7 linked regions of the Homo sapiens genome follow. The protein of the gene in region 5 interacts with the protein of the main gene of each other region in a pairwise test. Each region holds a gene or a part of one and is shown on either strand. Other genes may lie near its edges.

The links.
Region 1: the proteins of TLE1 (region 5) and RERE interact in a two-hybrid assay, tested with the Homo sapiens proteins (one large-scale study listed by IntAct).
Region 2: the proteins of TLE1 (region 5) and ZFP64 interact in a two-hybrid assay, tested with the Homo sapiens proteins (one large-scale study listed by BioGRID and IntAct).
Region 3: the proteins of TLE1 (region 5) and RNF10 interact in a two-hybrid assay, tested with the Homo sapiens proteins (one large-scale study listed by BioGRID and IntAct).
Region 4: the proteins of TLE1 (region 5) and BTBD2 interact in a two-hybrid assay, tested with the Homo sapiens proteins (one large-scale study listed by BioGRID and IntAct).
Region 6: the proteins of TLE1 (region 5) and FOXA3 interact in a two-hybrid assay, tested with the Homo sapiens proteins (one large-scale study listed by BioGRID and IntAct).
Region 7: the proteins of TLE1 (region 5) and SERPINB9 interact in a two-hybrid assay, tested with the Homo sapiens proteins (one large-scale study listed by BioGRID and IntAct).

What each region holds. Positions count from the first base shown.
Region 1 is NC_000001.11:8,653,231-8,657,883, reverse strand, and holds part of RERE (arginine-glutamic acid dipeptide repeats protein), read left to right. Parts: intron 1-1,442; 5' UTR 1,443-1,586; coding exon 1,587-1,911; intron 1,912-4,653. UniProt on the Homo sapiens protein: Plays a role as a transcriptional repressor during development. May play a role in the control of cell survival. Overexpression of RERE recruits BAX to the nucleus particularly to POD and triggers caspase-3 activation, leading to cell death.
Region 2 is NC_000020.11:52,150,389-52,154,543, forward strand, and holds the end of ZFP64 (zinc finger protein 64), read right to left. Parts: intron 3,041-4,155; coding exon 1,758-3,040; 3' UTR 890-1,757; downstream 1-889. UniProt on the Homo sapiens protein: May be involved in the regulation of mesenchymal cell differentiation through transactivation of NOTCH1 target genes.
Region 3 is NC_000012.12:120,536,940-120,541,592, forward strand, and holds part of RNF10 (E3 ubiquitin-protein ligase RNF10), read left to right. Parts: intron 1-4,653. UniProt on the Homo sapiens protein: E3 ubiquitin-protein ligase that catalyzes monoubiquitination of 40S ribosomal proteins RPS2/us5 and RPS3/us3 in response to ribosome stalling.
Region 4 is NC_000019.10:2,008,776-2,013,428, reverse strand, and holds part of BTBD2 (BTB/POZ domain-containing protein 2), read left to right. Parts: intron 1-4,653.
Region 5 is NC_000009.12:81,582,030-81,585,865, reverse strand, and holds the end of TLE1 (transducin-like enhancer protein 1), read left to right. Parts: intron 1-210; coding exon 211-361; intron 362-1,341; coding exon 1,342-1,418; intron 1,419-1,560; coding exon 1,561-1,668; 3' UTR 1,669-2,183; downstream 2,184-3,836. UniProt on the Homo sapiens protein: Transcriptional corepressor that binds to a number of transcription factors. Inhibits NF-kappa-B-regulated gene expression. Inhibits the transcriptional activation mediated by FOXA2, and by CTNNB1 and TCF family members in Wnt signaling.
Region 6 is NC_000019.10:45,870,037-45,874,675, forward strand, and holds the end of FOXA3 (hepatocyte nuclear factor 3-gamma), read left to right. Parts: intron 1-2,038; coding exon 2,039-3,022; 3' UTR 3,023-3,761; downstream 3,762-4,639. UniProt on the Homo sapiens protein: Transcription factor that is thought to act as a 'pioneer' factor opening the compacted chromatin for other proteins through interactions with nucleosomal core histones and thereby replacing linker histones at target enhancer and/or promoter sites.
Region 7 is NC_000006.12:2,889,682-2,894,104, reverse strand, and holds part of SERPINB9 (serpin B9), read left to right. Parts: intron 1-551; coding exon 552-694; intron 695-2,116; coding exon 2,117-2,272; intron 2,273-3,534; coding exon 3,535-3,942; 3' UTR 3,943-4,423. UniProt on the Homo sapiens protein: Granzyme B inhibitor.

The sequences.
Region 1 (4,653 bases), on a different chromosome or scaffold from region 5:
ATGTTTTGTTAAGGCAGAGACAATACATTTTCTTTTCTTTATTGAGATGGAGTCTTTTGCCCAGACTGGAGTGCAGTGGTGTGATCTCGGCTCACTGTAACCTCTGCCTCCTAGGTTCAAGCGATTCTCCTGCCTCAGCCTCCCAAGTAGCTGGGACTATAGGCGTGTGCCACTGTGCCCAGCTACTTTTTGTGTGTTTAGTAGAGACAGAGTTTCACCACGTTGGCCAGGCTGGTCTCGAACTTCTGACCTCACGTGATCCCCCTGCCTTGGCCTCCCAAAGTGCTGTGATTACAGGTGTGAGCCACCACGCCTGGCCAGTAATACATCTTTAGAGAGATCATTTTCCTTGGAACATAACTGAAAATGGTAGGATGAAAAGATGTGTAAAATGTAACTGAAGGTGGAAAAATCTTGCTCTGAAGCTCTCACTTTCGTTTGAGTTAAATATTATTTTTATTCTTGAAGGAAGTTCTGGGAGTTTGTAGAAGTAGCCAGAAAATATCTTTAGAATATAGTGCTCTATGCGATATCCTGAGACTTTTTTTTCTTTTCTTCTTCTTTTTTTTTTTTTTTTGAGACGGAGTCTCTCGCTCTGTCGCCCAGGCTGAAGTGCAGTGGCACAATCTCGGCTCACTACAAGCTCCGTCTCCTGGGTTCACGCCATTCTCCTGCCTCAGACTCCTGAGTAGCCGGGACTACAGGCGCCCGCCACCACACCCAGCTAATTTTTGTTGTATTTTTTAGTAGAGACAGGGTTTTACCACATTAGCAAGGATGATCTTGATCTCCTGACCCCGTGATCCATCTTCCTCGGCCTCCCAAAGCGCTGGGATTACAGGCGTGAGCCACCGCGCCCGGCCTATCCTGAGACATTTTTGACAGTGCTGCAAACTATTACTATTTTTTCAGGTAGAAATATTTTATTTTATGTTGGAGATGGGATCTCGCTTTGTTGCCAGGGTTGGTCTTGAACTCCTGGCTTCAAGTGGTCCTTCTGGCTTGGCCTCTCAAAATGCTGGGATTACAAGGCATGAGCCGCAGTGCCTGGCCTGGAAATAATTTTTACTACAGATTCTTTCCTCTTTAAATTAATATTATGAGTTATGAAGCTCCTTTTGTATAATAATACCCATTATATGTTGTCTACCAGGGTATTGGTTTGCTTTTTCTTTAAAAAGGAGAAAACATGTAAGGTGGAGGAAGTGTAGTTTACTCTTAGGCATTCAGACAGTTTTTATTATTGGTGTCATAAAAAACCCCAAACCATTTGCTGAGACCAAAAACTGTAGTTTTTAAATTTTAACACTTAATTTTTCTCCTGTGGCTTGTGCGAAGTTTTTAGGTGTAAAGCATGAATAAGTAAGAGATTCATTTAACAAAACATTATTTTAGGAAACAAATATGAAAAAGCGTTAAAACCATTCTTTTTTCTCTCCTAGCATTTTTGAAACGTTGGGGTTGTTGGAGTGGTTGGATTTTCCCTGGAATTGAGTGAGAAATTCAGAAGACTGAAGCCCAGGCTTACTGTCTACCTTTCACGGAGGCCTAGCCGTGAGAGGACAGAAGAAGGCACGTGGCGAATCATGACAGCGGACAAAGACAAAGACAAAGACAAAGAGAAGGACCGGGACCGAGACCGGGACCGAGAGAGAGAGAAAAGAGACAAAGCAAGAGAGAGTGAGAATTCAAGGCCACGCCGGAGCTGTACCTTGGAAGGAGGAGCCAAAAATTATGCTGAGAGTGATCACAGTGAAGACGAGGACAATGACAACAATAGTGCCACCGCAGAGGAGTCCACGAAGAAGAATAAGAAGAAACCACCGAAAAAAAAGTCTCGTTATGAAAGGACAGATACCGGTGAGATAACATCCTACATCACTGAAGATGATGTGGTCTACAGACCAGGAGGTAAGGAGCCTTACGTTTGGGTCTTGCCAATGTTTACAGTGGGGGAATGATCTTGGCATTATGGTGAAATAAATACGCTTTGTACACTTTAAGGAAGGCTTGGAATCTAGAAGAGTAGGAAACTTAATTTGGTAAACATGTGACCCACTTTTGGTCAGTTAGGTTCACCCACTTCTTGCTTGTGTCTGCCTTAATTTGCTCTTGTGTCCTGGTTTATGCATTCATGAGTTCTTTTCTTATTTTCCTGTGCTGCTTGTTCTCTAACTGGACCATCTGCTTAGTATTTTTTTGTCTTTTGAATTCATGCTTGCTTTTTAATCTTCAATCATAAATGAGACTGTGGTGACCCTGCAGAATTGACTGCTTGGTGGAGACAAGTAAACCTTAAGATTCTTGGAAACAGGAAATTTTACCTTGGGACAGGATCGACCAGACTCTAGAGAGGTACTTTTTAAAAATGGCCTTTAGGCCAGGCATGGTGGCTCACGCCTGCAATTCTAGCACTTTGGGAGGCTGAGGCGGGTGGTGACCTGAGGTCAGGAGTTCGAGACCAGCCTGACCAACATGATGAAACCCTGTCTCTACTAAAAATACAAAAATTAGCTGGGCTCGGTGGTGTGCACCTCTAATCCCAGCTACTTGGGAGGCTGAGACGGGAGAATTGCTTGAACCCAGGAGGTGGAGGTTGCAGTCAGCCGAGATCACACCACTGCACTCCAGCCTGGGCAACAGAGCGAGTCTCCGTCTCAGAAAAAAAAAAAAGCCCTGAAGATCAGAGATGTATTGCTCCTGCTAACTTCCTTTTCCAAAAATTTGAGCTTCAGGCTCTCTAATCAACAATAATAGAAGTAGTCATCTAACCTGCTTGGTTTTCCAGAAAATGTATTATGGTCACACCAGTATATTGTGGCTTATAGCATTGCTCAAAAAAAGACAGACTCAACTTTTAGATGAGATCAGGGAAACAAGTGAGTCAAAACCTGTTGAACACTAGCAAAGCCTTTCCTTTTCATTTGATGTATTGTGTGTATTAAGACACCTTTTTTAGGCTGGGCACAGTGTAATCCCAGCACTTTGGGAGGCGGAGACAGAAGGATTGCTTGAGCTCAGGAGTTCAAGACCAGCCTGGGCAACGTAGTGAGACCCCCATCTTTACAAAAAATTTTTACAAATTAGCTGGGCCTGGTGGCACACACCTGTAGTCCCAGCTATTCAGGAGGCTGAGGCAGGAGCATCACTTGAGTCTGGGAGGTCGAGGCTGTAGTGAAGCATGATTGCACCACTGCTTTCTAGCCTGGGCAACAGAGCAAGACCCTGTCTCAAAAAAAAAAACAAAAAAAAACAAAACAAGATCCTTTCTTACAGAAGCCAGTAAAACCTAGGTGAAATCATTTTGTTTGAGTTACTTTTACTGTTGAAGAGTGACATGAATTTTGTATGAGATGTAATTAGCAGATTAAAGCTGCCCATTTTTATGTTTTTCTGAGAAGGAGATTAAAATACTTCACTGTGTTATGTCCATAATCTGGAACAATCATTTTACTGAGGAATGCTGTTACTGTTATGAACTTCACGTCAAGTTCCAGATTTTCATTCTCCCACACAGGAGTTTTTTAAATTTCAAAAGATGTCAGTGGGGCTGGGCACGGTGGCTCATGACTGTAATCCCAGCACTTTGAGAGGCTGAGGCGGCGGGAGGATTGCTTGAGTAGTGTGGAGACCAGCCTGGGCAACATAGTGAGACCGTATCTCTGCAAAACAGTAAAAAATTAGCTGGGAGTGTGATGAGACTGCAGTCCCAGCTACTCAGGAGGCTGAGGTAGAAGAATCCCTTGAGCTCAGGAGGGCAAGGCTGCAGTAAGCCCCGTTCACATCATAGCACTGCAGCCTGTGCAGCAGAGCAAAACCCTGTCTCCACCCCTCCCCCCCGCAAAAAAAAAAAAAGTCAGTGCTAGAACTTAATACAGACAAATTTGCATTCACAGCTACAATTTCTTGGTTGGAGATTAACTGAGAAGGTATTTGTGTGATATAAATTGATCAGAGTGGAGGTTTTAGAGCAGTTAGAAATCTGCTGTAACGATTAAATGATGTGTGTAGGTTACAGTACTGTCTGTATTTATCTTTGATGTAGACTCAGCTATTGGGCAGTAAGAATTTCTTAGTGACTGAAGAATCTCTCAGAGTTACCACAGATTGCTTGTTTAGGGCGTACGCACATCTAAATCATGGGAAAGGAACAAAACATGTTAACCCTTTTTTTTTTTTTTTTTTTTTTGAGGTGGAGTCTCGCTCTGTTGCTTAGGCTGGAGTGCAGTGGCGCGATCTTGGCTCACTGCAAGCTCCGCCTCCCGGGTTCACGCCATTCTCCTGCCTCAGCCTCCCCAGTAGCTGGGACTACAGGCGCCCACCACTGCGCCCAGCTAATATTTTGTATTTTTAGTAGAGACGGGGTTTCACCGTGGTCTCGATCTCCTGACCTCGTGATCTACCCGCCTCGGCCTCCCAAAGTGCTGGGATTACAGGCGTGAGCCATCGCGCCTGGCCAACTCTTTTAGATATAGATTACATTATGATAACTTCAGTATAAGGAAAGATTTACTTTTTTATTATCCTTTCTCTTGATAACAATTTAATGTGGTAATACAGTTTGGATCACTGTCAAAAGGCAAGCTGCCTTGTGCAGTATTGAATGCTAACCTTTCTCAGCATTTATAATATGGAACGTTATTCTGGTGTCAG
Region 2 (4,155 bases), on a different chromosome or scaffold from region 5:
AAAGAGAAAGACATAGGAAATAGGACCATGACAATGGAAGTTTCCCAGCTGAAATTCAAAAGCAGAACAGTTTTTCTAAAGGGCTGTAAGCAATAAGTTTAAAGTGACAAAATTATTTAAATCACTAACATTGTACACTGCAAGCCTTTTCTGTTTCTTACCAAAAACATAGTTAATAACTCACTATTATCATTGATGATAGGAAAATAAAGAAATTATGGCAAATATAGCAAGTCATCAAAATTGTGTCCAACTATTACAGATCAAAGAAAGAAGAATAAAAGTGGTAGAAATGTATCTAAGTATTCTCATAATATTCTAAATATGCTTCTGTCCCAAGAGTAACCTCCCCTCCTCACCAATCCTTGCTGACAGCAGAAATGAGTGCTATTACAACCTTACAGAATGGCTTAAGGTACAAATATGGATGATTCTAGCTTGCTCTCTGGCACCACCTACTGATCAAACAGCATTTCAATGTAAAACAACACAATCTGAATTTTCCTCTTCTCAATACAACCTATGCTTTGGAAAAAATCTAGGTACTCTCTCAGTCCACTCATCTGGATTCTGCACAGATATTAACATCTCAAAAATGGTATTCTAGAAAATTCTGTCTTGTTAGTAGGAACTTTGATCATTTTTGTGTCTAAACAGAAATGCCAGGATTGTCAGTCTGAAGTTTCAAAATGAAAACAACAGTGGGATGGATCACTTTATCACTTTAGGTACCACATCTATTTAATGTGACTGTGGAGGAGGTAAGATGATTGTGTGACGTTTATGAAAGGACTAAAAACCTTTGCTGCTTCAGTTTGTTTTTGATTAATGACTCACGCCCCATCATTCCCAAATCCCACCTTGGCTCTAAAGAATCATTAACATTCAGTATATTTTAATCAGATATCAATTTATTATGGAACCATTCATTTTCTGCTCATTAGCACTAAACATTTTTTTTTGGGTCAAGTATCCATGTCATATTATGTAGAAAATGGTCCTTCATGCCAACAGACTTACATGTATAAAACATGAACACCCCCAAACTCTGGGGAGTATTCCAGAATGGGGCAAAAGAGAGGCTGGGAAGTACCATTTACTACACAAATGTAATAAGATGGACAGAAACCTTTATTAGAGTTGGAAAATCAAGTTGGAAACAAACACATGAATTCACTACTTAATGCATTTAATTCCAACCCCTCATTGGAATCATCTTGGTAACATTTAAGATTCTACAACAGTTATAATGCGACGATTCAGAGGTGGTCTCAAAGTTGTTACAGTGTTAAAAAAATTATAGTAAGCAGTATAAAATTACAATTTATTATGGGGCCAGGGGGATTCACAACCATCCTTAAAAACATTAAGAGCAAACCACGGCCAGGCATGGTGGCTCACACCTGTAATCCCAGCACTTTGGGAGGCTGAGGTGGGCAGATCACTTGAGGTCAGGAGTTCAACATGATGAAACCCCGTCTCTACTAAATATACAAAAATTAGCCAGTCATGATGTCGTACACCTGTGGTCCCAGCTACTCGGAGGGCTGAGGCATGAGAATCGCTTGAACCTGGGAGGCGGACGTTGCAGTGAGCCAAGATAGCGCCACTGCACTCCAGCCTGGGAAACAGAGCGAGACTCCGTCTCAAAAACAAAACAAAACAAAGAAAACATTAAGAGCAAACCTTTTAGAGAATTCTACTTAAGATTTCTTTTTCTCAATTCCTTTCCCCCACTCCTTTTGTTTTTTTAAGCACTAATCTGGAATGGAGTCGGCGGGACAGAGCAAAGCTGGATGGGCTGCCCCTTGAATGATGGAGTAGGTCTGCTTGGGTAGTTCTTGCTGGGAAGAGGAGGAGAAGACCGGTGGCGCTGTGGTGGCCACTGCGATGTTCTGGCCTCCATCGCTCACCACTGTCACTTCTGCTGTCCCCTCCTGAATCAAGGCGTTTAGGCCTTCAAAGTCAGTGCAAGTAATACCCGAACTGGTAATGAAAGTTTGATTGCCAGAGCCTTCCTGGGGGCCACCTGAGGCCGTGGGGATGAGAGTCTGGTGCAGAGTGGCTCCGTCCGTCTGCTCGTGGGTGGTCAGCAGGACAGCCGGCTGGGTCATTGCGCCCGCCTCGCTCGGACACCGCGAGGACTGAGGGGGGGCGATCAGACTGACCTGGCGCAGGATCTGCAGCCGGCTGTTCCCTGGGAGTTCCTCTGGGTTCTGGGCCACCAAGGCAGGCGGGACGATGTTCACTGCAGCGGCGGCAGCCTGGACGATGGTGTTCGCCTGGGGCACCTGATGCCCAACGATGATTTTGACTCTTCCCTCGCTGAACTGGGGCACTTGGCTGGGCTGGAGGGGCACCTGGAGGTGTCCCACAGTGAGGGGCGTGGCGGGCTGCTTGCTGGGGTCGATCTGAAACTGGAGAACGGTCACGTCCGAGTTCTTACTCTCACTGTACTCACTGTGCTGTCTCTTGTGGCTGCGGAGCGAGTCCTCCCGCATGAAGGAGGCATCGCATATATCGCAGTGGAAACTCTTCTTGGCATCCAGCTTGGCCACCTGCCGGCTGCTCTGCCTGCCGGTGTCCTTCCTCTCTAGAGCCTCAGTCTTAACCATGTCCCCATGGAACTTCTTCATGTGCTTGCTCAGGTTGCTGGGCTGTTTGGTGTCGAAGCTGCAGTAGTTGCACTTGAAAGGGCGGTCGGTGCAGTGGATACGCTCGTGGATGCGCAGGGCGGCCTTGCTGGAGCAGGAGTAGCTGCATTCCGAGCACTTCTCAGGATGCTCCGACTGGTGCACGCGGCTGTGCTTCCGGAGGGTGGCTTTGCTGTCACCCAGGAAGTCGCAATGAGGACACTTGAAGTTATTCCCGCTGTGCTTGATACGGATGTGCGACTTGAGGTTCCCCTTCATGGTGCAGCGGACATTGCAGAACTCGCACTTGAAAGGCTTCTCCCCCGAGTGCACCCGCATGTGCCTTTTCAAGTCCGAGCTGATTTTGAACTTGGCGCTACAGAGCCAGCACTGGAAGGGGGCGTCCCCTGTCAACACAAGGTGAGTTTCGATAAGAACAGGCAGGCAACAACCACAGCGGATCCCCCCGAAGCACACACCAGAAAATCGCTTATACAAGGTGGGTGGGTGCAGACCTCCTAACTGCAGCTTCTAGCAGCCCCTGGCAGTGGGGGAAGAGGGGCAGGGCGTCTTTATCTTTCCCCGGAACCCAAACCACCACCACCGGTATCAAACCCAGAAGAAAAATGGGAGATCGAAAAGAGCAATTTAATTGTCCCAGATAAAATAAGATTTACAAGTATACTTGTTATATTCTTTAAAACACTCAAACTATCTTTCATACAGTTAATTTGCCCACTCTGCTAGTTAATGGTTCACAGTTGAAGACTTTTGCACAACCCGTTGATTTTGATTGAGTTACATGTTGTAACAGATTCAACAATATATTTTCGAATGGGTCAGCTCCGTGCTGCACTCATTGGAGTATGGTTTTACAATGACTGAAACACCCAGCTTATATTTCATGCAGATCTTTATTAATAAAGATGTGTTTCTTGCACAAAATTTATTTATCCCATATTGCCAGCTGCGTTCTTTACTTGTGAAGTTACAAAATCCAGCTGCTTGATTTTTTTTAAAAAAAATTCATATTCGCTGAAAGATGAGCAAGGCAAGTGAAATTGCAAACATCTGATTGGATACCATATTCCAAATTTACTTCCTCAATGAATGCCAAGTCCAAATTATCTGAGGCAATGACAATTCAAGCAAATTGGCGACCCCTCATCTCAACATTGTTTAAGTAAGCAAAATAGCAGCTAATATTCTTCGATGGCTTCCGGGATGGCAGGCGCTATGCTGAGCACTCCACAAGCATGGTCTCGCTTGATGCTGGGAAGATTGCCCTGTGGTGGGTGCTATTATTAATATTGTTTTTTAACACAGTTACACAGAGGAGAAGGCTGAGACCCAGACAGACTACATAACTTGTTCTTGGTCGCCCCGTAGTACAAAGAAGGGCTTGGATTCCAATCCAGGCTGACTCCACAACTGGTATCTTTAGATGCTAGGTAATTATCTGTGCATATAACTGATGTTTGCTTTCTTAGGTCATAAACCCACAAGACTGGGATGGTGTTCC
Region 3 (4,653 bases), on a different chromosome or scaffold from region 5:
GCTATGTCCTTCACTTTGAATATGTTGGTTAGTGGAATTAACTCTGATTACCCAACAAGATGATACAGAATTCTATAGTAGTTTGACCAAAGCAAGTATTTGTCATTGTTAACATTTCAAATGGGCTGGGTGGCTATAATCCCAGCACTTTGGGAGGCTGAGGCAGGCCGATTACTTGAGCCCAGGAGTTCGAGACCCTGTCCTACAAAAAAATAAATGAGCCGGGCGTGGTGGCACGCACCTGTAGTCCCAGCTGTGAAGAGGCTGAGGCAGGGGAGGAGGAAGAGCACTTAAACCCAGAAGTTCGAGGTTGCAGTGAGCCACGATCACTCCACTGCACTCTAGCCTGGGTGGCAGAGTGAGACCCCGTCTCAAAACAAGAAAACTTCTGTAAAAACTCATGTAGGCCGGGTGCGGTGGCTCACGCCTGTAATCCCAGCACTTTGGGAGGCCGAGGCAGGTGGATCATCTGAGTTCAGGAGTTTGAGACCAGCCTGGCCAACATGGTGAAGCCCCGTCTCTACTAAAAGTACAAAAAATTAGTCCGGCGTGGTGGTGCGCACCTGTAATCCCAGCTACTCGGGGGGCTGAGGCAGGAGAATCCCTTGAAACCGGGAGGCGGAGGTTGCAGTAAGCCAAGATTGCACCATTGCACTCCAGCCCGTCTAAAAAAACAAAAACTCATGTAAAGGCCCTTTGTTAGATTTTACAAATAACACATATGTGCCTTGAGGCAGCATTCTTTTTTTTTTGTTTAATGTGTGTGTTAGAAAGCTTGACCATGTTTGCCACCGCCAGTGTCTGCTTTTCTGGCTTCTGCTGTGCGTGTTCGTTTAGCAAGGAAGGATGGGCTTTGTAGCCAAATCCATGCTTCTTCACTAGCCATAATCCACTGCTTGCATTTAGGAACAAATTAAAAGGCAGGATATGTGGAGATTAAAAGGTTAGGAAACTGGATATTGGCTGATTTTTAAAGTTGAAACTAAGCTGCCTTAGGAACGTAACAGCTAAGACCAGTGCTACTACAGCAGATACTCAGGAGCTCTGATGCAGTGACTTCACGATGAGATGGTTGCTCTAACAAAAGGGTACACTCAAGCTCCGCATAATCCCATAAAAAGATTTCTGCAGTATCTCATAAGCTGAACACTTCATATACTTGATTCTGCTGGGAATCATTGAAAGGACCTCTTGAATTACAGAGTACTGAGTTGAGGGGAAAACAAGCGTAAGGTGAAAAGATAGTTTATCTTTTGTCAAGGTGAAAAGAGCAAGAGTTTTCAGTATTCAAATATTTAAGTCACTTTTTTTCTCCCCCTTTTCTACCTCGTGGAAGAAAGCCCTTTGGTTTCTATTCTGTAAACTGTCATTAATGGCCATTTGCTTCCTAGCTACATGATTAATTTCTTTGAGATTTTGTTCCAGTGGCTGGCTTAAATTTGCCCTTCATTTGTACACAGGAAATATGTAAATTTGGCTACCAGGATTTTCTTGATCTTTCCGGCTAGAGTCGCATACCACAGTTTCTTTGCCTGGGCTAATTGCCTGAACATTTATATAACATTCCTTTTCTTGATTATATTCCTACAGCTTCATTCCAGTAGTGTTAATAGGTATTTCTGAGAACATGCAGCAGTAAATATCCTGTGAATATAGCTCAGAGGAGAGAAGGTGGGTTAGAAAGTGGGGAAAGTCATTTAGAGGGAGCAAAGAAAGAGAGGCAAGAGAGAAGGTAGGCCGTTTATGGGCAGGCAGTGGACTCTGGCCAGGAACCAGGCTCTTGTCCCATCCCCCTGGGCCGATAGAACTGCCAGGGAGGTTAAGGGAAGGTCAGGTATTATGAGGCAGTTATTTTGAGGTTGGTGGTATGAAGCACTGCCCTGGCATTCTTCCTGTTATTCTGGTACCAGAAACCAGGTTACTAGTGGTAATCTGCCTTGAAGAATGCCTCTGAGCTGTAAATGGACCTGGAGATTTTAATGGCTTTGAAAATTGAGGTGATTTGAAGCCTTCAGTAAAACCACTTAGAGAAATTAAAAGAATTTCAGGGCCCGTTGGCTGGATTCCTTGGTTTATATGGCTTCATTGGAAGTCTAGTGGGTGCTCTTGACAGGAACGCTTTGGATTTATTAATGATAGGCTTTCAAATCATAGTAAAACTGTGTGTCAGCCACTATGGTAGGCATTTTACAGAAGTTTTCTTTCTTAATCCTCATGATTCTATGAGGAAGTATGGTAGAATATTAGTCCTGTTTCACAGAAAAGAAAATAGAGGCTTAGCAGTGTTAAGAGTGATTTGTCCAAGTAAATTTTTATGAAGTCCTAGGCGGTATTTTTCAATAAGCTTTGTATAATCACACTTAGCAAGCAGATAACTTACTGGCATGTGCATCATTCCTGATACCACCTCTCTCTTCCTTTCATTCAGAATTACTAATTTCAGCTGGATTCAATTTGTTGTCAGTTGATTCTGTAGTAAGGCCATATGTTGCCCCTCTGGAGGTGCTTGTCAACTACTCTGGATGATGGGTAAGCAACTTGCTTGTGATTACAGCATGAATCAGCAGCAGAAACTTGCTGACTGGTATTCTGACCTCTAGGCCGAGCCACCTGTTAGAACTAGAGCTAGAAATGAAGATGCCAAGTAATTTAACTGTGAAAAACTTGTGGCCCTTAATTTGGTAATGGGGGGAGGCTGAGATATACCTACTGCTACTTGGTGGAGACCTTTCCATTAGGGAAATGTGGAACAACTGAGAAGCTGGGTTAAGTTTTTAAGTCATTTATTTGTCGACTCTGGAGCCTGAGTTTAGTGGTCTTGTCCATTTTGGAATGTGTCTTGACAGTAGTTCTTGGCAGTTGTTCTCAGTGGTGGCTGTGCATCAGAATCTCCTCAGGAACTTTTTTTTTTCCCTCAAGACAGTCTTGCTCTGTCACCCAGGCTGGAGTTCAGTGGCGCGATCTCAGCTCACTTTAACCTCTGCCTTCCCGGTTTAAGCAATTCTTCTGCCTCAGCCTCCTGAGTAGCTGGATTGCAGGTGTCCACCACCACACCGGCCTAATTTTTGTATTTTTAGTAGAGATGGGTTTCGCCATGTTGGCCAGGCTGGTCTCAAACTCCTGACCTCATGAGGAACTTAAAAAAAAAAAAAATAGGGGTGTGTGGGGCCCCTTCCTAGGAATTTATTATCTTTTTTTTTTTTGTAGAGATGGGGGTCTCACCATGTTGCCCAGGCTGGTCTCAAATTCCTGGCTTCAAATGATCCTCCCACCTTAGCCTCCCAAAGTGCTGGGGTTACAGGCATAAGCCACTGTGCCTGGCCTTTTTCTGATTCTTTAAGCCTAGATTGAACCCGTGGGTCCTGGGCATTCATAATTTAAAAAGTCTGTGCAAGTGATTCTGGTGTGCAGCCAGGATTGAGAACCACCACTCTGAGATTTAAAACTTCACCCATAGTTCCTTCTCCCAGGAACTTGATATTTTTTGTTTTCCAAAATCTAAAGTGGATCATCTTATCACTCCTGTTCTACCCTCGAGTTTTTCCCATGTATATCCTGGCAAGTTGTCCACAAAACATTTCAAAAATAATACTCTGAATTTTATCTCTGGGTCCCAGGCCTGATGGTACCTTCAACCTTTAGCTGCCTTTTGCCTGGGTCTAGAGATAAGAGCCAGTCTCTCACTTGACATATCTGTCTTCATACCCTTAGGTAACTGGAAGACGAGAAACGAGTTGATTTTGGCAACTAAAATCACTAATCATGATGTGGTCAGTTGTTATGTGTTTTGGAAATGAGCAGTTTACTGTCTTATCAGTGAGCATTTCTGTAAGCATTATGAAACTGTTTCCTTGCCAGTGTGGTAATAAGTGAAGAAATGAAGACAGCCTTCTTGCTGAGTGCCAGTTTACTTTCTTTTTTTTTTTTTTTTTGAGACAGAGTTTTGCTCTTGTTGCCCAGGCTGGAGTGTAGTGGTGCAGTCTCGGCCTTGCCGCAACCTCCACCTCCCGGGTTCAAGCTATTCTCCTGCCTCAGCCCCCGGAGTAGCTGGGATTACAGGCATGCGCCACCATGCCCAGCTAATTTTTTGTATTTTTAGTAGAGACGGGGTTTCTCCATGTTGGTCAGGCTGGTCTCGAACTCCCGACCTCAGGTGATCCGCCCGCCTCGGCCTCCCAAAGCATTGGGATTATAGGCATGAGCCACCGTGTCTGGCCATTTTACTTTCTTAATAAGCCCTTGCCATGTAGAATCTGGCTTTACCTAAATCTATGCAAACCGTGAGGTGCATCTTGAAAGCAGCAGTTAGGGTCAAACAGGTAGGGTCCAGGATCATCTGAAACAGTCTTGGATAATGAGGTTGGAGGATATGTGTTTTCTTTATATACCTATCCTCGTAGAATCTCCTTTGCTTGAGGTGATGTGAAATGGAGTTAAGGAAAGCAAAGCAAGAGAATGTGGCTGAGTTAGCTGGGGTTCTGCATCCCCTGAGTTTTCCTTTTTTTTTTTTTTTGAGACGGAGTCTCACTCTGTCGCCCAGACTGGAATGCAGTGGCACGATCTCCGCTCACTGCTAGCCCCGCCTCCCGGGTTCACGCCATTCTCCTGCCTCAGCCTCCCGAGCAGCTGGGACTACAGGCGCCCGCCACCAAG
Region 4 (4,653 bases), on a different chromosome or scaffold from region 5:
CCCAGCTCCGGGGTCCCTCCCTCCCCAGCCCCCAGCCCTCCTTTCTGGGAAAGAAGTGGGTTTGGCCCAGTATCTGTCTTTGCCAGTGTGCGGGGTACCGGCCCCAGGCCCCAGGTTCCCTCCACTCCCCGGTCCCTCTTACCCTGCCCCTCATTGGTCGGGGGCAGGGGCTGGGTTTTCTTGCTGCGGGCACTGGAGGGGGAGGGTCCTGCCCTCCCTTCTGACCTTCGGGTGCTTTTGTTAACGTGTTCTGGCTTCTTCCTGGGTGTTTATGGGCAGCTGGGTCTCCTTTCGTGGGGTCCTGCCCTGGGCGGTACTTAGCAGAGGTTCCTGCCCCTGGAGGGTTCCGGGGCCTCCTACGGCTTGTGCCGTCCGTGTCGCCGTCCCTGTCTCTGTCGTCCTTAGCTGCTGGGCCTCTCCTAGCTTGGAGTGAGGGGCGGTGGGTTTGCTCCCTCCACCTGGGTGGTCTTTGTGCTCTTTGGGGAGGGGGTAGGTTGGATGCAGCTGGAACTCACCCAGCAGCAGGTGCAGCTGGAGAATCCCAGGCTTTCTGTTTGAGGGGGGAGGTGGGGCGCCCCGGGCACCGGCTGACCTTGGGACATGTATGCGATTGCACTTGAGGGACCGCTGGCTCGGTTGCAAAGTGGGGAAGATGGAGGCAGGACAAGGACCCCTTGGAGAAAAGTAGGTGAGGGGTCTGCCCCCGGGGGGCTCAGGAGAGGGCAATGAGGCCCAGCGGGAGATAGCAGCAAGGTAAGGTGGGCGGGCCTGGGACAGCGGACCCTCGACATGCGGGGTTAGGGGCGTGGACCCCCACTCAGCTCAAATCCAAGTACAACTTTTGACTCCCACGAACTTAACTAGGAATGGCTTCTCGCTGACCGGAGGCCTTGTGAGGACACTTGGTCAATGCACACCAGCCTCCTGTTCTCACAATAACAGGCTGGAGAACAGAAAATACATTCAGAAAAGTCTAAGGGGCCGGGTGCGGGGGCGCACGCCTGGAATCCCAGCACTTTGGGAGGCCGAGGCGGGCAGATCACGAGGTCGGGAGATCGAGACCAGCCTGGTCAACACGGTGAAACCCTGTCTCTACAAAAATACAAAAATTAGCCGGGCGTGGTGGCGCACACCTGTAATCCCAGCTACTCAGGAGGCTGAGGCAGGAGAATCTCGTGAACCCAGGAGGTGGAGGTTGCAGGGAACCGAGATTGCGCCATTGCACTCCAGCCCAGGCGACACAGTGACACACCATCTCAAAAAAAATAAAGGACAGGCTGGGCGCGGTGGCTCACGCCTGTAATCCCAGCACTTTGGGAGGCCGAGGCGGGCGAATCATGAGGTCAGGAGTTTGAGACCATCCTGGCCAACGTGGTGAAACACCGTCTCTACTAAAAATACAAAAAATTAGCCGGGTGTGGTGGTGCACAACTGTAGTCCCAGCTACTTGGGAGGCTGAGGCAGGAGAATCACTTGAACCCGGGAGGCGGAGGTTGCAGTGAGCCGAGGTTGCGCTACTGCACTCCAGCCTGGGCGACAGAGCAAGACTCTGTCTCAAAAAAAAAAGGAAAAAAAATAAAAGGAGAAATCCTGTTTGCTGTTCACACAGTGGAGGTGGCCACGATGAAGGCCTGTGTCCTTGTGTTCATATTGAGGGCTGAGGAGCAGGAGCAGGAGGGTGGGTCTGTCTCCGGGGTGGCAGAGGTGGAAGGGGAGGCAGGAGAGGCCGGCACCGTTGGGGCAGCCTTTATTGAAAAAATTCACATATGAGTGGACCTGTGCAGTTGAAGCCTGCCTTGTTGAAAGGTCATCTGTGTTTCCTTAGCATTTCAGGAGGGTTGAAAATGGAGAGGGGGCACTGACCTGGTCCAGAACGACCCCCTGAGCAAGTGATGTTGATGGAGAGTGCAGTGCCCCAGGCTCAGGGATGGAAGGCCCAGAGCCCAGAGGGGCTGGGCAGGTGGGAGCCATGGCAAGGCCGGAGCAGGAGGAGTGAGGGAGGCCCTGTGGCCCAGTGTGACCAGATCCGCATTGAGGGTGGAACGCGCCGTGGATGGGCCCAGGAGCGAGGCTGGGGAGTAGCAGCTGCAGACTCCAGGCAGGAGACAGCAGCGGGCTCGGTGGGGACGGCAGAAATGAGGGGTAGAGGATGCAGGTCCTCTTTGGAGGAAGCGAGTTCCTGTGGCCAGGAGAGGAGGCAGCTTGGCAGGTGAGGGCGTGGGGGGCTGTGGTGGGGGTCCCCAGACTTCTGGCTGGAGCATCACAAGCCAGGACAGGCTCAGGAGGGACAAGTACTGGCTTGGATGTGTTGGCGGGACCTGGGGCTGAGAGGTCCGCAGAGCAGTGTGTCCCAAGTGCTCTGTGCCTCAGTTTCCATGATTGAAACAAGGTCACTCAGACACATCTGTCCTGGGGCTGTGGGAACAAACGGACCCGATGGGTTGCTGACAGCCACAGGCCACACAGCAGAGAGAAAGAAAACAGCAGCTGAGGCCGGGCGCAGTGGCTCACGCCTATCATCCCAGCACTTCGGGAGGCCGAGATGGGCAGACATCTGAGGTCAGGGGTTTGAGACCAGCCTGGCCATCGTGGCAAAACCCCGTCTCTACTAAAAATACACAAATAAGCTGGGCGCGGTGGCACGCACCTGTAATCCCAGCTACTCAGAGTCTGAGGCAGGAGGATGGCTTGAATCCGGAAGGCAGAAATTGCAGTGAGCCAAGATTGCGCCACTGCACTCCAGCCTGGGTGACAGGGCGAGACTCCGTCTCAAAAAAAAAAAAAAGGTGGGGGGATGTCGGGACGAACTGGGGGTGCTGGGATAAAGTCTGGAGTTCACCGATGAGCAGAGAGGGGCCGGGCCTTGCCAGCTGTGAGGAGAGCAAGTGGCCTGGGCTTGGGCCTGGTCCCTGGCGGGGGTGCAGGGTGAGCTGAGACATGGCAGAGAGGAGGCTGGGAGCAGGCCTTGGTGGTGGCCCCAGTGTCTGGACCGTCGCGCAGGGGTCGGCGTTTGTGCTGGGGAGGAGGCCAGGGGTTGCACGCGGCTTCTGGGCTGTTCCCCGGTCCTGGATGGGCACCCGTCCATCTCAGCGCGCTGGAGCCTGGCACACAGTAGGCACGCAGTGATTGTGCATTGAATGATCTGTGGGAATTAAACATCTGATTCTCTCATGGGGCTTGAAGGGAGAACTGAAGATCTCCAGGGTTGCACTTTTGTAGATGTGCACATTGGCTGGTCCCATGAAGTTAGTATCTAAAATACCTTTTTCTTTTTTTTGAGACGGAGTCTCGCTCTGTTGCCCAGGCTGGAGTCCAGTGGCGCGATCTCCGCTCACTGCAAGCTCCGCCTCCCAGGTTCATGCCATTCTCCTGCCTCAGCCTCCCGAGTAGCTGGGACTACAGGCACCCGCCACCACACTTGGCTAATTGTATTTTTTAGTAGAGACGGGGTTTCACCATGTTAGCCGGGCTAGTCTCAAACTCCCGACCTCAGGTGATCCGCCCACCTCGGCCTCCCAAAGTGCTGGGATTACAGGCGTGAGCCACCGCACCTGGCCTCCCCTCCTTTTTTGTTTTTTTGAGACAGAATCTTGCTCTATTGCCCAGGCTGGGGTACAGTGGCGTGATCTCCGCATGCTGCAGCCTTCAGCTCCCTGGCTCAAGCAATTCTCCTGTCTCAGCCTTCTGAGTAGCTGGGATTACAGGTGTGCGCCACCACGCCCAGCTAATTTTTGTATTTTTAGTAGAGACAGTATTTCCGTCATGTTGCCCAGGGTGATGGTGAACTCCTGAGCTCAGGTGATCCACCCACCTCGGCCTCCCAAAGTGCTGGGATTCCAGGTGTGAGCCACCGCGCCCAGCCTAACGTATCTTTATTCACTCTATCATGGAACTGTCAGCATTGTAGCGAGGTCTAGAAGTAGAACAATCTGGGTGGGTGTGGTGGCTCACGCCTGTAATCCCAGCACTTTGGGAGGCCGAGTCAGGCGGATCACGAGGTCAGGAATTTGAGACCAGCCTGGACAACATGGTGAAACCCCGTCTCTACTAAAAATACAAAAAATTAGCCTGGTGTGGCGGTGGGCACCTGTAATCCCAGCTACTTGGGAGGCTGAGGCAGGAGAATTGCTTGAACCCGGGAGGCGGAGGTTGCAGTGAGCCAAGATCACGCCACCACACTCCAACCTGGGTGACAGACTGAGACTCCGCCTCAAAAAAGAAGAAAAAAGAAAAACCACAAAAATTAGCCGGGCGTGGTGGCGAGCGCCTGTAACCCCAGCTACTGGGGAGGCTGAGGCAGGATAATCGTTTGAACCTGGGAGGCGGAGGTTGCAGTGAGCCAGGATTGTGCCACTGCACTTCAGCCTGGGTGACAAAGCGAGACTCTGTCTTGGAAAAAAAAAAAAAAGAACAGTGTGTTCTGGGGTCTCACATTTCATTGACTGCTTTGTGAGTCCTTGTTCCCATAACACATTGTTTGATGATTGCTGCTTTGTGGTATGTTTTGAGAACTGCTCACCAAATTCTTCCCAACTTTATTCTTTGTGAAGACTTTTCAGGCTGAGTGCAGTGGCTCACATCTGTAATCCCAGCACTTTGGGAGGCTGAGGTGGGAGGATCACTTGACCCCAGGAGTTCGAGACCAGTCTGGCC
Region 5 (3,836 bases):
AGACAGAGGGGTTCAAATGTTTCCAGTTTCCTAAAGGTTTTGACACTTGGTTCATCTGCGTTAGATCACTTGCCCTGTGGACCTCCCCACAGTCTGGACTTGGCTGATTACTTCCCCCCATTCTTGCTATTTCCCCACTTTTCACATTGCGTCTTCCCTTCCTAAGTGTATCAGGCGGAATAATGAGTGAGCCTGTCTTGCTCCTTGTAGATCTTCTCCCTGGGGTACTGCCCCACCGGGGAGTGGCTGGCAGTGGGCATGGAGAGCAGCAATGTGGAGGTGCTGCACGTGAACAAGCCTGACAAGTACCAGCTGCACCTGCATGAGAGCTGCGTGCTGTCCCTGAAATTTGCTTACTGTGGTGAGTTCAGCCGAAAGGAAACTGGAGGCCGTTGATGGCCCAAATGGAAAATGCTTCTTAAAAAAATATGGTAGAGATCATAATCTGGAAAAAATGTTCTCCGAGCAGCTGGATGCAATAATTCTATTGTTTTAATATGCCCTTCAGAGCACAGCAATGTCTGTTTCAGTCTGTTTTGCTAATTTGAGAAAAGTCAGCAGGCAATGTGATTGCCTAATACACGGTTTGGACACAAGTTTGTTTTGGAGGGGTTGGGAGACGACAATGAGTTTCTACTCTGAAGAGGGGTGGGCGGGAATTTATTGAAGAATGGAGCAGGGGCAGTGGAAGTCATTATGAGCTGGCCATGATGAGGAATCCAGGGTTAGAGAAGTCGATATTTAGGTATACGCAGACACTTAGTTACACTCTACTCTACAGTGAGGATGAAGAGGGAAGAAGTTCATGTGGTGACCCTTCTTGTGTGCTGCAGATGGGCAGATATCTGTTCACAGTATGCATAGATGGATGGATGGATGGATGGATGGATGGATGGATGGGTGGATGAGTGCCTATCACTTATTGAGCATTTTTCTTCATGCTATATGATGTGACTGGCATTTTACTTAAGTTGGATGTTTAATCCTTTAATTCCCATTAAAGATGGGAATCTTTAATCCCATTTTATCATGAGGAGACTGACTAAAATAGAACACATTCTTCATTGATTTCTATATTTGAGGGTTACCGTGTGTTGGATATGATGCTACTAGTCCTGTATCCAGTGACTAAGGAGGCTGATACCTCTTAGATTATACCCAAGATCACTGATAAATCACTGAGGAGCCCAGATTAAAACCTCTGTTCATATCATGGACCAGTCCTTAGGGCATGATAGTTCATATATTAAAAATGTTCTTAGTTTGATTAAGTCCAAGTTGCTAATTGTATAGTAGGAATTTTAACCTTGTGAAAACTAGATATTCCTTTGCTAATTCTAGGTAAATGGTTTGTGAGTACTGGAAAAGATAACCTCCTCAATGCTTGGCGGACCCCCTATGGAGCCAGCATATTCCAGGTGAGTAAGTACTCCTCACCTAGATCCACAGTTTGACCACAGTGTCGCCTCTGAAGCCAGGAGTGAAGGTGCCTCCGAGGGAGCAGGGCCTCTGAGTACCGTTGTTCCACATTAAACACATGTCCATTGTTTTCTCTTCCAGTCCAAAGAGTCCTCGTCAGTGCTTAGCTGTGACATCTCTGTGGATGATAAGTACATAGTCACTGGCTCGGGGGACAAGAAGGCTACAGTCTATGAAGTCATCTACTGAAAACATTATGTGGTTTAACGTTTATAGTTGAATTGGGCCAAAATGTTTCGAATTTATAGAAATAGAAAAGTTGTAACTTTAAAAGAGAAAAAAAATTACAAACACCTGTTTCCAAACCTTGACAGAAAACTACTTTGAGTCTACAAAGAGGAGGCGACAAGTCCATCAGCAGAAAGTCACCTGTCTACATAGACCAAATGGAGCACCAAGGCCAAGCGGACAGAGGGGCCATGGGTTGTAGGATTGAGGAACGGAATCTGCCGACTCACATGACAGCCCATTCTTTCTTTCTGGGTGATCTGGGGATCACGCCTTGCCCAAGTGTGAGATTACCTTTCTGTTCCTTGCAGTTCACCTCACTTTCCGTCCTTTGTAGAGCAGTGGTGTCTCCAATGAACTTGTTTCCTGGTTTTGCATCTTGTGAAATGTTTTTTTGTATTTTTGTTGAAGGTTAAACATTTGTATAAATTGTAAATATATTTGGTTTATTACAGTAAAGGCTTTAGTACCAATAAGTGGTTTTCCTTTTCTTTCTTTATTGTTTTTTATTAAAGCTTTGGGATCATCAATGTGGGTTTTATAAGCAAAGATTATACATTTGTAGAGGAAGTTTTGAATTGCACTGCTTATTTTATAAATATATTTGGTGGTAGGCTCCCATTGCATTAGAACCTAATCCTTCACAAGCTTGAGTTACTGGGAGCTCAAGACTAGGAATTGTGAGTAATTGAAGGTTTACTAATGACAGTTTTCTTTAGGAAAGTAAAATTACTTCATCAAGATTTGTTCTTTTGTTATGATACTATTGTGATTCAAGGTCAAAGATTAAAGCTCTACTTTTTTCTGGTGATTCATTGGAAGGCAAAATATTCCTTTTTCTAGGAAGGCCCAATCTCCTCTTCCTTTTCCCTTTCTCTTTCCCTTTCTCTCTTTCTTTCGTTCTCTCTCTCTCTCTCCTTTTTTTTTTTTTTTTTTTTTGTTTAAAGATTTGAGTTCACATTGTTTGTTACCCAGGTTGGAGTGCAATGGCATGATCACATCTCACTGCAGCCTTGAACTCCTGGGCTTAAGCAATCCTCCCACCTCAGCCTCCTGAATAGCCAGGCTAATTTTTTTTTTTTTTTTAATTTTTATTTTTTGTAGAGGCAGACTCTCACTTTGTTGCCCAGGCTGGTCTCGACCTCCTGGCCTCAAGTGATCCTCCCGCCTTGGTCTCCTAAAGTGCTAGGATTAAAGGCATGACCCACTACATGCTGGCCTCAGTAGTTTCAAATCTGTATTCTCTCTCTTCACAAGCTTCACTTGGGTTTTGTGTTATGATCTATGATACACAGAAAGCTGCAGAGTTCATTAACCTGTAAAAGGTGGAAAGTCAGCTGGTTTTGTCTTCATTAATACTTATTTGGTCTATTATATTAAGTTACTTAAGCCAACCATACCCATCACTTCTCCGCATTCTTCTCATTAAGGCCCTCCCTGCAGCTCTAGCCATTATTATCTATCATTAGTCTTTGGTCTTTATCTTTGTGGACATGCTTTTACTAATGTGATTAGATGAAATCTGTAATCCTGGGCTTTTAATAAGTTACCATCCATGTTTCCTCCTGAAAAAGCTACATGGCTTATTTTTTATATACTATATACTATTATACACCATTATTTTCTATTATTTTATAAAATAATAGCTAATAAATTTAAGGCAGTGTTCCCGGCTGTTTAAAAATAGCACCTAAGGAATTTTTAATGTTCTTGTTCTCTTATGATCCAGCGAGTTGTTGGCAGTTTGTCTTAATATTTTTCATTTGTTACCAAGACCTTGTTCTTTATATATTCAAAAACATTACTTTGTTTGCTTTTTGCCAAAAAAAAATGTTTATATACTGAGTTAAATATTTTCACTTCTCATTAAGTGAATGGCAAACCCCCATTACTAAAGCTGATTATGCTGTCATCCCTTCCTTGTATAACGAAGTAGGTTTCTATCTGACAGACTCAGATGGCTTGTTAATGGAGTAATGGAGTGTTTATCTTTTCTGTTCTCTCTCCCTCCCCGCCTTACTTCCCTATTTTCTCTAATACCAACAATGAAGTAGCTTAAAGACCATTAGAGTTTGTCTCCCTCCTACCTGTGACCCGGAGACCCAGGCCCACAATGCAGCTCTGCACTT
Region 6 (4,639 bases), on a different chromosome or scaffold from region 5:
CGGCCTCCCAAAGTGCTGGGATTACAGGTGTGAGCCACTGTGCCCAGCCTAAATGCAGTAATTTTATAAGCTAAAAGATTGAAGAGAGCTACACATATATGTTAGATATGTTAGATTATTACAGAGTTATAATAACTTTTTTTTTTTTTTTTTGAGACAGAATCTCACTGTCGCCCAGGCTGGAGTGCAGTGGCATGATCTCAGCTCACTGCAAGCTCCACCTTCCGGGTTCACGCCATTCTCCTGCCTCAGCCTCCCAAGTAGCTGGGACTACAGGCGTTCGCCACCACACCCGGCTAATTTTGTTTTTGTATTTTTAGTAGAGACAGGGTTTCACCGTGTTAGCCAAGATGGTCTCGATCTCCTGACCTTGTGATCCACCTGCCTCGGCCTCCCAAAGTGCTGGGATTACAGGTGTGAGCCACCGTGCCCGGCCTATAATAACTCTTTATGATTACTAAAATTGAGAACTGCTGATTTACCTAATAAACCAGCAGTTATTAAATGTTTTGGTCTCAGGACCACCCCCCTTCTTTTTTTTTTTTTTTTGAGATGGAGTCTTGCTCTGTTGTCCTGGCTGGAGTGTGCAGTGGCATGATCTCAGCTCACCGCAGCCTCAGACTCCTGGGCTCAAGCGATCCTCCTGCCTCAACCTCCCGAGTAGCTGGGATTACAGTCCTGTGCCACGATGCCGGCTGATTTTTGTATTTTTGGTAGATAACAGGGTTTTGCCACGTTGCCAGGCTGGTCTTGAACTTCTGACCTCAAGTGATTCACCCTCCTTGGCTCCCAAAGTTCTGGGATTACTTTGGGAGGCTGAGGCAGGAGGATTACTCGAGGCCAGGAGTTTGAAAACAGCCTGGGCAACATGGTGAATCCCCGTCTCTACTAAAAATACAAAAAAATTAGCTGGGTGTGCGGTGCATGCCTATAATCCCAGCTACTTGGGAGGCTGAGGCAGGAGGATCACTTGAGCCCCAGAGTTTGAGGCTACAGTGAGCTGCGATTGCACCACTGCACTTCAGCCTGAGTGACAGAGTGAGACCCTGTAGAAAAAAAAAATTATTTAGGAGTCCAAACAGTTTCTGTTGATGTGGGTTATGTCTATCTACGTTTACAGTATTTACAATTAAAACTGAGAAATATTACAAACATGTATTCATTTAAAAATAGCAATCATTTGTTAGTGTAAAAGATTTTTATTAAAAAAACCAAATTTCAAAAAATTTAGTCAAAAGAGCGACACTGTTTTTTTCCATTTTTGCAAATCAAGTCTGGCCCAGTGGAAGACAGCTGGATTCTCCTGGTTGCTTCTTCATTCTCTCTGTTGGAATATCAACACCCCCTGGAAAACTCCACTGTACACTTCATGAGAAAGAGAGTGAAAAGGGCTAATAATAACTTAGGATTGCGGGTGTGGTGGCTCATGCCTGTAATCTCAGCACTTTGGGAGGCCGAGGCGGGCAGATCACGAGGTCAGGAGTTCAAGACCAGCCCGGCCAACATGGAGAAACCCTGTCTCTACTAAAAATACAAAAAAAAAAAAAAAAAAGCTGGCGTGGTGGCACACACCTGTAATCCCAGCTGCTCTGGAGGCTGATGCAGGAGAATTGGTTGAGCCCAGGAGGCGGAGGTTGCATTGAGGTGAGATCACGCCACTGCACTCCAGCCTGGGCGACAGAGCAAGACTCTGCCTCGAAAAAAAAAATAGCATTATTTTGAAAATAGTTTTGACTTCGTGGACATCCTCAAAGGGTTTCAGAGACTGCCCTGGGAGTCCCGAACCCTGGAGAATCACTTAAAGGATGATGTTGAGTGTATGGGAGCATGGTGGGTGGGAAAGCAGGGGGCAGAAAGGGCGTGTCCAGGGAGTGAGGAGAGACCTTGAGAGACTGCTTTCTACAGATAGAGGTAATGATGGAAGGGATTTGTAGAGAAGGCAAGATGGACAGACAGACGGACACTCAGTGGGTCCTGGGATCCTTTGCTGACCAGCAGAGTGGAGCCCCACTGACCCCTCCTTTCATCTTTCCCCTAGGTCTACTCGCCGGTGACCCCAGTGCCCACCATGGCCCCCCTCAACTCCTACATGACCCTGAATCCTCTAAGCTCTCCCTATCCCCCTGGGGGGCTCCCTGCCTCCCCACTGCCCTCAGGACCCCTGGCACCCCCAGCACCTGCAGCCCCCCTGGGGCCCACTTTCCCAGGCCTGGGTGTCAGCGGTGGCAGCAGCAGCTCCGGGTACGGGGCCCCGGGTCCTGGGCTGGTGCACGGGAAGGAGATGCCGAAGGGGTATCGGCGGCCCCTGGCACACGCCAAGCCACCGTATTCCTATATCTCACTCATCACCATGGCCATCCAGCAGGCGCCGGGCAAGATGCTGACCTTGAGTGAAATCTACCAGTGGATCATGGACCTCTTCCCTTACTACCGGGAGAATCAGCAGCGCTGGCAGAACTCCATTCGCCACTCGCTGTCTTTCAACGACTGCTTCGTCAAGGTGGCGCGTTCCCCAGACAAGCCTGGCAAGGGCTCCTACTGGGCCCTACACCCCAGCTCAGGGAACATGTTTGAGAATGGCTGCTACCTGCGCCGCCAGAAACGCTTCAAGCTGGAGGAGAAGGTGAAAAAAGGGGGCAGCGGGGCTGCCACCACCACCAGGAACGGGACAGGGTCTGCTGCCTCGACCACCACCCCCGCGGCCACAGTCACCTCCCCGCCCCAGCCCCCGCCTCCAGCCCCTGAGCCTGAGGCCCAGGGCGGGGAAGATGTGGGGGCTCTGGACTGTGGCTCACCCGCTTCCTCCACACCCTATTTCACTGGCCTGGAGCTCCCAGGGGAGCTGAAGCTGGACGCGCCCTACAACTTCAACCACCCTTTCTCCATCAACAACCTAATGTCAGAACAGACACCAGCACCTCCCAAACTGGACGTGGGGTTTGGGGGCTACGGGGCTGAAGGTGGGGAGCCTGGAGTCTACTACCAGGGCCTCTATTCCCGCTCTTTGCTTAATGCATCCTAGCAGGGGTTGGGAACATGGTGGTGGGTATGGCTGGAGCTCACACCACGAAGCTCTTGGGGCCTGATCCTTCTGGTGACACTTCACTTGTCCCATTGGTTAACATCTGGGTGGGTCTATTACTTACTGTGATGACTGCTGTCTCAGTGGGCATGGTGTTGATCCACGGGGTACTGTGATAACCACCATGGATACATTTTGGTGGCCCACTGGGTACTGTGAGGACTGCTACATTGATGGATGTTATTGGCTAATCCACTGCATGGTTTGATGGCCACCATCTCGGTTGGCCCTTTGGGTGTGATGGTGATAGCATTTCAGTGACATCTTCTTTGGCCCCCCCCATTAGGTGCTGTGCCCACTTCTTTTTTGGTGTACTTGGCACAGTAGGTGCCAAGTTGGCCACCATTCTGTGTAACACCTTTTTTGGCCCATTGGGTGCTTTGATGGACATCATACTGGGTAGGTGACAACGTCAGTGGGCCACCATGTGCCATGATGGCTGCTGCAGCCCCGTGTTGGCCATGTCGTCACCATTCTCTCTGGCATGGGTTGGGTAGGGGATGGAGGTGAGAATACTCCTTGGTTTTCTCTGAAGCCCACCCTTTCCCCCAACTCTGGTCCAGGAGAAACCAGAAAAGGCTGGTTAGGGTGTGGGGAATTTCTACTGAAGTCTGATTCTTTCCCGGGAAGCGGGGTACTGGCTGTGTTTAATCATTAAAGGTACCGTGTCCGCCTCTTACTGAATGTCTCTTTTCCTTGGCCAGTGGGCCCTGTGGGGCTTGAACACCTGAATTTCTGCTCCTCTGTCCCTTCTGCTTCCTGCCCCTAAGAGCTGGCTGCCTCTGGGGGAGGAGTTGGGGGAGGCATCGACCTGACCTTTGGCTCTTTGCTGTCCCTGACCCCAAGGACAGTTTGCTCACAGATAGCAGCCCCCGCAGCAGTGGGGCCAGAGCAGCAGGGGGAGGTGGCTCTGCAGTGACCAAGGCCATCTCCCCACCCCCACTTCTCAGACATACACACAGACCTCTACCTCTGAGGCTCTGCAAGCCTAATGGCCGAATAATCTTTGGCTAAGCTGGGGAGGAGGAAAAAGGACAGATGAGGTGTCAATTCAATGACTGGAGATCGTGCACATGTTGGAGTTTATCTGCGTGTGTGTGTGTGTGTGTGTGTGTGTGTGTGTGTCCTCTGTGTGTCATAGGATAGCACTATGCCTATTGGGGTCCTCATGGTCTACCGCAGGGTGTTGTCTGTTGTCAGTATCCCTTGATTGTGTAGGTTTTTGTGTCTGTTCATACCCTGGGTATATGCTTACTTGCCCTGGGTGGCTGGGAATATCAGACTCTTGTGTATGTTTTTTTTTGTTTTTTTGAGACAGGGTCTCGCTCTGTTGCCCAGGCTGGAGTGTGTGGCACAATCTTGGCTCACGGCAACCTCCACCTCCTGGGTTCAAGTAATTCTCTTGCCTCAGCCTCCTGAGTAGCTAGGATTACAGGTGCCCGCCACGACACCTGGCTAATTTTTGTATTTTTAGTAGAGACAGGGTTTCACCATGTTGACCAAGCTGGTCTCAAATTCCTGACCTCAAGTGATCCGCCCACCTCAGGCTCCCAAAGT
Region 7 (4,423 bases), on a different chromosome or scaffold from region 5:
TGATCTTTGTTTGCCCACATCCTCTTTTCCAGGGATGCCTAGTGCTTTGTTGAGGGGATTCAGCAGGAATATCTCCTCCAAAAGCTTCTGGAAACTCCCCATGTGCCCAATGTCAGCTCTTCCCGCTTTGAGCCGTCCATTCTGGTTGCTTCTGACATGTCCATGTATAGTCACAGAATGTTAGAACTGGGTGTGATCATGAAGGGTTGGATCAAACACTCCAATTAACCATGTGAGACAAACACCCCTTCAGCCTATCACATTTCCTGCTGGTCTTGTTCTCCAACCTGGTGTAATTTTTCTACTTTGTACCAACCTGCTTTCCTCGAGTGACTTAGGTATCTTTCACCATCCTCAACTTGGTGGATGTTCTCAAGGTGTCAGTAATCATGAATACCACTCATATGTGCTGTTTTTATTTCTCTACATAACAACCCAAACTCAGCAAAGTTGAAAACAGAAGTTTGCTTCTCAACTAATGATCCAGGATCATCCAATGCATCAGGTTCTTATAAAAAGCAACTGAATGTAGTCTCTACTTTTCTTGAAAGGTAAAATTGAAGAGTTGTTGCCGGGTAGCTCAATTGATGCAGAAACCAGGCTGGTTCTTGTCAATGCCATCTACTTCAAAGGAAAGTGGAATGAACCGTTTGACGAAACATACACAAGGGAAATGCCCTTTAAAATAAACCAGGTGGGGGAAGCTTTTTAAAATCCTGCTAGTTTGATGAAGAAGTTGAATGGAAAGATTTAACTTTGTAAAAGTGTAAGTGACATAAGCGTAAGCCAAAAGGAATTTGAAACTTAAAGTATTTCTGAATGAATTTCTTAACTCAGTAGAAAAAAACGGAAGGAGTAAAAGATATTTGCTGCATATATATATTATATATACGTATATATAATATATATATATATATGTAGTGTTTTATCACTGCTCTTAACTGCCTTTGATAATTTCTCATAAACCATTGCTGCCACCTAGTTTTGGAAACTAAAGATCTTCCTATAAGCCCAATTTACTTGGCTAGAAAGCAAAAAAAAAAAAAAAAAAGTGTTAAGGTAGTGTGATATGTGGGAGTGAGAGGCAGTATAGGGCAGGGTAGAGGGAGAGAAGGTGAAAACATGTGTCTTTAATTAGTTATTTTTAAAATTAAAGTAAGTTTTGATTTGAATTGTTAACTAATTATCATTAATTCAGTATTTACAGCTTTTTAATATTAAAACTTCATGACAAAGACCTTAGTTTTGACATTGAAGTAAAACTTAATTAAGGCAGGCATTAGAATAATTTGCCAAATCTTCCAGCCCCTAAAAAGATACTATTTTAATGTAATTAAAAAACAAAAGCAGGTAACCCTCCTGCATTTTTTGTAAGGTGTACTTTAACTTAAAAAAATTAGTTCTCTAGTTGCAAAGGGTGGGAGGAGGAGAATTCTAACCCTGGTTTTAGAACTATTTTAATTTTTATAATAAATGATCTGTATCAATTTTTTAAAGTATTACGTTAATAAATGTAATACTTTGCTGAGCTTCTATGTGCTTATGCCTCTTCTGTATTTTAAAAAAGTTATTTCATTAGAGTATCAGAATTGAAAAGATTGGGTTAAAATACATTACTACATATGTAGGTCGTTACTCTTTCTGAGAGAGTGTATCCATTTATACTCCCTGTCATGCTGTTGTGGAACTATAAGTTTCATCCCACTTTATGATTTTTTTTCTCATATGTTGGGTTGGATAAATAGGAAAAACAATACACATTTTTTTCTAATTAAATCAAAACAAATTTGTATTTAATTTCATTTGATTATATTGCTTTCTTAGATCTATTTGCTGAGCACAATTTAAATGAGAAACATCTTTCTCCTCTGGAAAATGTAGGGTATCACATTTTATTTTGCAGAAGAAAACCTTTCCCAGGGTGGTACTGTGTCTGCTTGCAATGAAGATAGGAAGGAACTGGTTGACTTTTTTTTTTTTTTTTTTTTTTTTTTTTTTTAGTGTTAACTGGGGCATGAATGTGGCGGTTTCCATCACAGGTGCTGAAAACACTCTTGGAGGCAACTGCAGCTCTTTTGAAAGTTTTAATTGCGTCTTTCAATAATCCTTCCCCCAGGAGGAGCAAAGGCCAGTGCAGATGATGTATCAGGAGGCCACGTTTAAGCTCGCCCACGTGGGCGAGGTGCGCGCGCAGCTGCTGGAGCTGCCCTACGCCAGGAAGGAGCTGAGCCTGCTGGTGCTGCTGCCTGACGACGGCGTGGAGCTCAGCACGGTAAGACCCGGGCTGCGGGAAGAACCCAGGGACACCTTTGCGGGCAGAACTCGAGTGCCACTTCCACCTCTCATATTCACCTTCTGAGTTGGCGATGCGGCAGACGCACACTGTGCAGGCACTTGGCGTTGGGATCGAACTTTTGTTCAAGGCTGACTTTTCCCAATATTGTCTGCGTGATCTGCCAAACTACACATCTCAGTCCTCTGTTTTTTCATCGCTAGAAGGAGTGGGCGGCGGTTAAAATGCCTTTTAAAATAAATCAGGTAGGAGGAAGCTTATAAAAATCCTGCTAGTTTGATGAATGGCAGACTTTTAACTCTAAAAGCATAAATGACTGCTCGGGGTTATTGCCTCCTAGAGTTATGATGAGGATAAAATGTGGGTAATTCAGGTAACAAGCTTACCACATTGCCTGGCAACTAGTAAATGCTCTACAAATGTGATCCATTATTACAATCATCATTCTTAGCATTATGCTTTTAAAGTCTAGGAACCTGAAATAGAGAATGAGGAAGTCTTAACTTTGACCTAACAAGGCTGGGAGGGGGCATCCAGGGAGGTGTGAAGTCCAGTTCTCAGAGGGTGGGACCAGAGGCAGCCTCTGAGGGCACATCCAGGCACTCGGCTTCCTTTCAGCATGGATCTCCAGGGTGAGAGAGTCAACCATGGCAAATGGCAGGCAGTGGGACCCCATGACTTAAGAGGTCTGTGTGCGCAGCAGCCATTGGCTCTCCCTCTGCCCACCTTCCTGAAACTATGCTCCGGAAACTATGCAGAATCTCTCTGGGGCAGATAATCCTCTGGTAACCTCTCTGCTCCGGAAACTATGCAGAATCTCACCTGGGACAGATAATCCTGTTGGAGTGGCTCACACTGAGAGCCCTTTCGTTTCCAATCCTTTTCTTTACTAGCAATGGTTTGTTGTCTTTAAAAAGACTATGTTTGAAAAAAAAACACAGTCGCCTGGGCATTGACACTTGTCACAATACAAGATGTCTCTGGAGTTGTTGGATAAGGAGAGGACAGCCACAGCCTTCCTGCCTCTGACTGCTTGGTGTCTCTCCCCCTTGTCAAGGAAGTGGCACATGGGACATAGGACAAGTAAGAGTGCTCACAAGCTTCTGGCAGATGAAGGGGCCACTGATCCTATGTGAACAAACAACACCTACGTGCAAGGGGAGGAAGGGAACTGTGAGTGCCTGTGCGCTTGTACATGTGCACTGAAGTCGGAATCTTAAAGTCTAATTCTGGTCTTTCAGGTGGAAAAAAGTCTCACTTTTGAGAAACTCACAGCCTGGACCAAGCCAGACTGTATGAAGAGTACTGAGGTTGAAGTTCTCCTTCCAAAATTTAAACTACAAGAGGATTATGACATGGAATCTGTGCTTCGGCATTTGGGAATTGTTGATGCCTTCCAACAGGGCAAGGCTGACTTGTCGGCAATGTCAGCGGAGAGAGACCTGTGTCTGTCCAAGTTCGTGCACAAGAGTTTTGTGGAGGTGAATGAAGAAGGCACCGAGGCAGCGGCAGCGTCGAGCTGCTTTGTAGTTGCAGAGTGCTGCATGGAATCTGGCCCCAGGTTCTGTGCTGACCACCCTTTCCTTTTCTTCATCAGGCACAACAGAGCCAACAGCATTCTGTTCTGTGGCAGGTTCTCATCGCCATAAAGGGTGCACTTACCGTGCACTCGGCCATTTCCCTCTTCCTGTGTCCCCAGATCCCCACTACAGCTCCAAGAGGATGGGCCTAGAAAGCCAAGTGCAAAGATGAGGGCAGATTCTTTACCTGTCTGCCCTCATGATTTGCCAGCATGAATTCATGATGCTCCACACTCGCTTATGCTACTTAATCAGAATCTTGAGAAAATAGACCATAATGATTCCCTGTTGTATTAAAATTGCAGTCCAAATCCCATAGGATGGCAAGCAAAGTTCTTCTAGAATTCCACATGCAATTCACTCTGGCGACCCTGTGCTTTCCTGACACTGCGAATACATTCCTTAACCCGCTGCCTCAGTGGTAATAAATGGTGCTAGATATTGCTACTATTTTATAGATTTCCTGGTGCTTAGCCTTATAAAAAAGGTTGTAAAATGTACATTTATATTTTATCTTTTTTTTTTTTTTTTTTCTGAGACGCAGTCTGGC